2 linked regions of the Homo sapiens genome follow. The protein of the gene in region 1 binds, or shares a complex with, the protein of each later gene. Each region holds a gene or a part of one and is shown on either strand. Other genes may lie near its edges. The genes, in order: FLCN and LAMTOR5.

The links.
Region 2: FLCN (region 1) and LAMTOR5 share a complex: the UniProt entries of both Homo sapiens proteins name them as parts of the lysosomal folliculin complex.

Annotation. Positions count from the first base shown.
Region 1 is NC_000017.11:17,226,882-17,230,695, reverse strand, and holds part of FLCN (folliculin), read left to right. Parts: intron 1-865; exon of another isoform or gene 866-2,534; 5' UTR 2,535-2,558; coding exon 2,559-2,807; intron 2,808-3,814. UniProt on the Homo sapiens protein: Multi-functional protein, involved in both the cellular response to amino acid availability and in the regulation of glycolysis.
Region 2 is NC_000001.11:110,400,753-110,405,008, reverse strand, and holds the end of LAMTOR5 (ragulator complex protein LAMTOR5), read left to right. Parts: intron 1-972; coding exon 973-1,090; intron 1,091-3,425; coding exon 3,426-3,486; 3' UTR 3,487-3,756; downstream 3,757-4,256. UniProt on the Homo sapiens protein: As part of the Ragulator complex it is involved in amino acid sensing and activation of mTORC1, a signaling complex promoting cell growth in response to growth factors, energy levels, and amino acids.

The sequences.
Region 1 (3,814 bases):
GGAGTGCAGTGACCTAGTCTTGGCTCACTGCAACCTCCGCCTCCCAGGTTCAAGTGATTCTCCTCCCTCAGCCTCCCAAGTAGCTGGGTTTATAGGTGACCGCCAACACGCCCAGCTAAGGTTTTTGTTTTATTTTGTTTTGTTTTTGTTGTTTTTGGTTTTTTTTGAGACTGAGTCTCACTTTGTTGCCCAGGCTCGAGTGCCGTGGTGCGATCTCGGCTCACTGCAACCTTGCCTCCCAGGTTCAAGTGATTCTCGTGCCTCAGCCTCCTGAGTAGCTGGGACTACCAGCGCACACCACCACACCTGGCTAATCTTTGTATTCTTAGTAGAGGCAGGGTTTCACTGCGTCGGCCAGGCTGGTCTCAAACTCCTGACCTCAAGTGATCCACCCGCCTCAGCCTCCCAAAGTGTTGGGATTACAGGCTCATGGGATTACAGGCATGAGCCACTGTGCCGGCCTCTCCTAGCTAATTTAAATTTTAAATTTAAGTTGTCACACATAGCTGTGGCCACCGTATGGACAATGTGGGTCTGGCTGCATGTGTCAGGCTGTGTCACATGTCAGGCTGTTGGCTGTGGCTGTCCCCACTGTGCACCTTTGCTTTTGCGGTCTCGTTTCCAGAACTTCTCTGCCAGTGAGAACCCCATGACACACCCCCATTTTAAAGCCTTCTCTGGCTTTCCTGCATTCGTTAGGAAGGCATACTGCCTCATGCTGCCGCGGCCATCCCTCTGCAATGAGTGCTTGGTGTCCCTCAGACTTTGTGCCTGCAGCTGCCCCTGGCCTTCACATGGTTCCGCCGGCATCGCAGCTGTACTGTGGCCAAGCTTGGGGCTTTCCTTGACTCCATGTCCCCACCAGGTGTCCCATTGCTGGCTCTGCCACGGAAACTCTCCAAAGGGCTCTCTCTACCCACTCCTGTGAGCTTTTTCTCCACCGGAAACTGTGTTAAGGTCACCTTTGACTTCATCATTGTTCTGCAGGTTACCACTCCCCCTTTTAAAAAGATTGTGGTGAAATAATACATGACCTAAAATGCGCCATTTGAACCACTGTTCGGCGTGCAGTGCCGTGGCATGAAGTATGTTCACAGTGCTGTGCGGCCATCGCCACCTTCCGTCTCCAGAACTGAGCCCCGCTCTTCCCTCCCAGTCCCCGGCAGCTGCCATTCTGCTCTCTGTCTCTATGGCTTTGAGGACTCTAGGTACCTCCTATTTAAGTGGAATCCTACAGTGTTTATCCGTTTGTGACCAGTGTAGATCATTTCGTGTAATGTCCTTCAGTTTCAGCCGTGCCGTAGCTTGTGGCAGGGTTTCCTTCCTTTTTAAGGCCATGTGACATTCCAGTCCCACCTTGCTAAAGCAGTTTACCTGGTCACTGGGGTGACTCTGGAGCTCCCCTCTGGCCTCACTGCCTGTGCTTGGTCATGTTGGCTAGCTGTCCTCCCTTCTCCACCTCTGAGTCTACAAGGGCTGCACTCCACGGAGGTCCCATGCGTCAGCCCCGACCGCAGCGCTTGGCTCTGCTGCTGTGTCCCGTCCCCGTGAAGGCTCAGCAGGCACTCACTGGGCCTTCTCCCCTGCTCACTGCTCCGCACTCTGCACCCCACCCGCACTGTGCGTCTTCACCCTGCCTGGCCTGGGCCACTGTCCCTTCCTGCTCAGATCAGTCAGCAGGGTGCCTCAGCTTGTTCCCCACCTCCACCCTGGCCCCCTGCCATCTTTTCTGCACATGGGCATGAGTGAACCTATTCAAGTGAAATTCACATTTTCTCATGTCTCATCAGAACCCCCAAAGCCTCCCCAGTCTCTGATAACACATCCAGGGTCTTTCGGTGGCCTGGAGGAGCTATAAGATCTGCTTCCTACAGCCTCCACCCTGTCTGCTGCTGCTCTTTGGACACCGGACCTTACACACCCCTCAGACAGTACAGCACCCACCCTGCCCTTCAACTCTTGCTTGGCCCCGTAAGCCAGTCCTTCCAGGCTCCTGCCTCCTCTGGTCATTCCCTGCGTGGGCCTCTCGCAGGAAGCAGTTTTCCTGTGTCCCCCGCCGACCCCCTGCAGGAGGTAAGCTGCATGAGGGCAGTATCATGTTGCCTAGCACCTTGGCCCACATGGAGCAGGTGCCAAGCAGATATGTATTGGGTGGAGGACCCTCTCCCTGTGGCCTTTTATCTATTTGTTCTCACAGGGTTTGCCAGGTTTGGCTGCAGTTCATGTCACTTGAGGACATTCCTTTCCAGCGCCGTTGGCTTTGTGGCTGTGGCTCTGTCACAGCTCCAGCTGTGCTATCATTGGTCCACATTGTCCCCTCCCCTATTTGCTGTGACTCCCATGGGAAGATCCTATCTCTGTTCCTCTCGCACTGGGGCAAAGCAGTGCTGGCAGGGGGCTGGGGAACTGGCGGGTGGCCTCTCCTGGGCAGGAAGTCCATGGCACCCAGGTGCTCCCTGTGCTCCAGAGGGGCTGGGGAGGTTTCATGGAGTCAATAGGCATTGGCAAGCTGACATGTCCCCTGTCCCACGCAGGCCTGTTGCAGTCTCCAAGGCACCATGAATGCCATCGTGGCTCTCTGCCACTTCTGCGAGCTCCACGGCCCCCGCACTCTCTTCTGCACGGAGGTGCTGCACGCCCCACTTCCTCAAGGGGATGGGAATGAGGACAGTCCTGGCCAGGGTGAGCAGGCGGAAGAAGAGGAAGGTGGCATTCAGATGAACAGTCGGATGCGTGCGCACAGCCCCGCAGAGGGGGCCAGCGTCGAGTCCAGCAGCCCGGGGCCCAAAAAGTCGGACATGTGCGAGGCAAGTGTCTTTGGGGTCTTGGTTTTGTGATCCCTGCAGTAGGTGTGGGATGGACAGGAGGACCTGAGAGCAGTGGACGGGGCCTCCCGGGGTGACACAGACTGCTTCTCAGGGGCCCTTCAGTTCTTTCCGCTCATCCTGACTGTAGCTTTTGTTTTGTTTTGTTTTGTTTTTTTTGAGACAGAGTTTTGCTCTTATTGCCCAGGCTGGAGTGCCATGGTGTGATCATGGCTCACTGCAACCTCTGCCTCCCGGGTTCAAGCAATTCTCCTGCCTCAGCCTCCCGAATAACGAATTACACTTGCCTGCCACCACGCCTGGCTAATTTTGTATTTTTAGTAGAGATGGGGTTTCACCATGTTGGGCAGGCTGGTCTTGAACTCGTGACCTCAGGTGATCCACCTGCCTCGGCCTCCCAAAGTGCTGAGATTACAGGCGTGAGCCACCACACCCAGCCTATGTTAACTTCTTTAACCCACTCTGCCTCCCTGCCGTGGCCTTCATGTTTGTATTCACACACTCCAGCCTGTCCTGGAGGCGGGTCCCCAAAGTCCCGTGCTCCCAGTGGAGTTTCCTGCTCCCAGGACCCCCAGTGTTCTCGGTGGGTCACTCCATCAGCTCTTGAACTCTCGGGAATTAGTGTGAGTTTTCCCCAGTGGGCCACTTGTTTTTGTGGAGGACCTGGGTCAGGGCCCAAAATCAGGGGTGGGTGTTGGACCTGCCACTGCAGTGCAAACGGGAACCCAAGCTTGTTCTTTTGGTTCTGCTGCAGAAGCAGAGGACGTGTAAGAGCTGCATCCATTGCTGGAATTGCCTGTAAGGAATGGGGGATGGGGAGCACCTCAGACCTGGGAAGGAGGGCACCGCCAGGCTGCTGGGGCATCCTTGAGCTGGTTTTGGGGTTGCCCATGGAGGAATCCTGCGACACTGTGGGGAGAGTCTTGCTGACGCACTGCCGCACAGTCCTGGGGTAGGAGCAGCTCCAGGGCGCACAGCCTCAGCATCGG
Region 2 (4,256 bases), on another chromosome or scaffold:
TGGCACGATCTTGGCTCACTGCAACCTCCATTTCCCAGGTTCAGGCAATTCTCCTGCCTCAGCCTCCTGAGTAGCTGGGATTACAGGCGCCTGCCACCACGCCCAGATAATTTTTGTATTTTTAGTAGATACAGGGTTTCACTATGTTGGCCAGGCTGGTCTCGAACTCCTTATCTCAGGTGATCCACCCACCTCCGCCTCCCAAAGTGCGGGATTACAGGAATGAGCCACTACACCCGGCCTAATCACGATATTTTAAGGTTATATAATATGTATAAAATGCTTACATAGAACTGAGACATAATACTTAATAAATGGTAGCAATTACACATGAGGAAATAAGTTTGGAAAGGTAAATAAGTAAAGCATTCAGTTAATTAGTGACAACTAGTAAACCCAAGACTTGTTGCTCCTAATGCAGGAATGTTTAAAGCTCTGAATTTTTGCTGGAAGGGTAACTGAAAGAGGTAATCGGTGTAACTCAGTTATGTTTAACATGCAGATCAGTCATTTGGGAGAAAAAGGGTAAATTTTTGGAAGCATTTGCTAGGCTTACTAATGGAAAGACTGAAATTCAGGTATGGAAATCTAAAACTAAATGAGTTCCTTCAAGAAACCTTCAAGGCTCAAACGTCGGCATCGGATCTGGTCAAAATGTTTTGTATAGTAATAGTACATCCAAATGCTCTGCCATAGTGGCATGTCTATTACCTGATTTGGTTTCAGGTACAGTTAACTTTGTGTTGCCTTTATATACAGAAATATATTGTAAAGTACACTTAGTAATTAATTTTCGTACCTAGAATTTATAGGTACTTTTGTACCCGAGATTTAGTTACTATAATATATACAGACTAATACAGACATTAATAAAAAGACAATTCTGTAGACATTTTAAAACAGCCAGCTAGCTTATTTTAGCAGAAATACTCTATGAGCAATCAGGTGACATATATCATCTCTATTTTCCAGGCCGCGGGACCCTGTCAGATGAGCATGCTGGAGTGATATCTGTTCTAGCCCAGCAAGCAGCTAAGCTAACCTCTGACCCCACTGATATTCCTGTGGTGTGTCTAGAATCAGATAATGGGTGAGTAGATTTCAGCAGATCCTTTCCTTTTTGTTCAGAAAAATTCCTGGTAAAATTGGCGGGGGCCGGCCCTGTGTTCATCAGTGATTCCTTATTCAGACTACTTTGGGAAAAGTTCTTAATCTTTTGAATCACAGGAACAGACAAGTTGATCCCTAAAGCTAATGTGCTCTCAGGCCACAATGCTATTTAAATGAAGAATAAGAATTGGCAGAAGCTATCAGTTTACCAACAAAAAGAAAGTAACAAATAGCACAAAGGAAAACTAATCAGAGAATAAAAATTACTTTTTTTTTTTTTCTTTTTGAGGCAGGGTGTTGCTCTGGCACCAGGCTGGAGTACAGTGGTGTGATCATGGGTCACTGTGACTTCAACCCCACCGGGCTCAAGCGATTCACCCAACTCAGCCTCCCGAGTTGTAGCTGAGACTACAGGTGTACACTACCACACCCAGCTAATTTTTGTATTTTTTTGTAGAGATGAGGTTTCACCATGTTTCCCAGGCTGGTCTCGAACTCCTGGGCTCCAGTAATTTGCCCGCCTCAGCCTCCCAAAGTGCTGGGATTACAGGAATGAGTCACTGCACCCAGCCAAAAATTACTTCTAAAGCAATAAAATTACTAAAGATATTCCAAGTGATGGTCCTCAGAATAATATGTGAAAAAAAGTATATATATACAACTGCTACTATCACAGCCTTGTAAAAAGAAAAAACATACAGTCATGCATTGCTTAACAATGGGGATATGTTCTGAGAAATGTGTCAGGCAGTTTTGTTGTATGAACATCATAGAGTGTACTTAAACCTAGGTGGTACACCCTATTACACACCTAGGCTGTATTGCTCTTAGACTACAAAGATTTGTAGCCTAAATAATGTAGGCAGTTATAACAGTGGTATTTATGTATCTAAACGTAGAGAAGATACAGTAAAAGTATGGTATAGGGAAATTTTTTAAAAGGTATATCTGAATAGGGCACTTACCATAATGGAGCTTACAACACTGGAAGTTGCTCTGAGTGAGTCAATAAAACTTTTTGACTTTATAATAACACTTAAAACAGTTGTACAGCTGTACAAAAATTCTTTTTTTAAACTTTTTTACTTTTTAGACTTTTTTGTTAAAAGCAAAGAAGAAACACACATTAGCCTAGGCCTGCACAGGGTCAGGATCATCAATATCACTGGCTTCTATCTCCACATCTTCTCCCACTGGAAGGTCATCCAGGGCAGTAACATGCATGGAGTTGTCATCTCCTGTAATGATGATACCTTCTGGAATACCTCCTAAAGGACCTGTCTGAGGCTGTTTTATAGTTAACCTTGTCTTAATAAGTAGGAGTAGTATACTCTAAAATAATGATAAAAAGTAGGCCCGGCATGGTGGCTCACACTTGTAATCCCAGCACTTTGGGAGGCCAAGGCGGGCAGATCACTTGAGGTAAGGAGTGTGAGACAGCCTAACCAACATGGTGAAACCCTGTCTCTACTAAAAATACAAAAATTAGGCATGGTGGCAGGCACCTGTAATCCTAGCTACTCAGGAGGCTGAGGCAGGAGAATTGCTTGAACCCGGGAGGCAGAGGTTGCAGTGAGCTGAGATCACGCCACTGCCCTCCAGCCTGGGCAACAGAGCAAGACTCCGTCTCAAAAAAAAGAAAAAAAGTATAGTAAATACATAAACCATAGCATAGTCATTTATTATTATCAAGCGTTACGTACTGTACATAATTGTATGTGCTATACTTTTTATGACTGGCAGCACAATTTGTTTACACCAGCATTACCACAAACATGTGAGTAGTGTGTTGTGCTATGTGATGCTGGGACGGTTAAAAGGTCACTAGGCAATAGGAATTTTTCAGTTCCATTATAATCTTACGGGACCACCATCATATGTAGGGTCCACTGTTGACTGAAGCATTGTTATGCAGCACATGACTGTATCATATACATGCAAAGAAAACAAAGACCAGTAAAGCCTTTTTTTTGTAGTTCCAGCTACTGAGGTGGCTGAAGCAGGATTGCTTGAGCCCAGGAGTTTGAGGCCAGCTTGGGCAACATAGCAAGACAGTGCCTAAAAAACCGAAACAAAGAACCAGGGAAATATTAACAGTGGTTGTCTGTGTGTAGTAGGATTAAGGATTCATTTCGTGTTCACATGCTATATGTTTATGTATTTCCCAAATGTTTTGTTATGTTTAAATATTGCTTTTATACGTAGAAACAATTACATTATTTTAAATATTGTATCCTAAAGCAAACAACATCTTTAATCTTGCAGTGAAGTCCCACTGATTACGTTTTACTGAATATTTTCTTCCTGCATTTCAGGAACATTATGATCCAGAAACACGATGGCATCACGGTGGCAGTGCACAAAATGGCCTCTTGATGCTCATATCTGTTCTTCAGCAGCCTGTCATAGGAACTGGATCCTACCTATGTTAATTACCTTATAGAACTACTAAAGTTCCAGTAGTTAGGCCATTCATTTAATGTGCATTAGGCACTTTTCTGTTTATTTAAGAGTCAATTGCTTTCTAATGCTCTATGGACCGACTATCAAGATATTAGTAAGAAAGGATCATGTTTTGAAGCAGCAGGTCCAGGTCACTTTGTATATAGAATTTTGCTGTATTCAATAAATCTGTTTGGAGGAAAATGGATCTTTTCTAGATTCTTTAAACTTAACCAAATGTTCCTTTTGTTCAGTTATCAAACTGTAATTTTTTTAAAAGGTCTTTGTTCTAAATTACTTTTGTTTAAGAAGCTTCCTGAAATACCTACATTCTCACAGGTATGTCCATGGATCCCACCCCTGTGCAGTCAGAAATCTACATGTAACTTTTGACCCCTCAGTAGCCTACTGACTTAAACAGTAACACGAGTTTTCTATGTTTTACGTTTTCGTTTTTTGTTTTGTTTTGTTTTGTTTTTTTCAGTAGACAGAGTCCTGCTCTGTCGCCAGGCTGGAGTGCAGTGGTGCGATCTCAGCTCACTGCAAGCTCCGCCTCCTGGGTTCAAGCGATTCTCCTGCCTCAGCCTCCAGAGTAGCTGGGACTACAGGCGCACGACACCACACCTGGCTGATTTTTGTATTTTTAGTAGAGATGGGGTTTCGCCATGTTGGCCAGGATCGTCTCGATCTCCTGACCTCGTGAT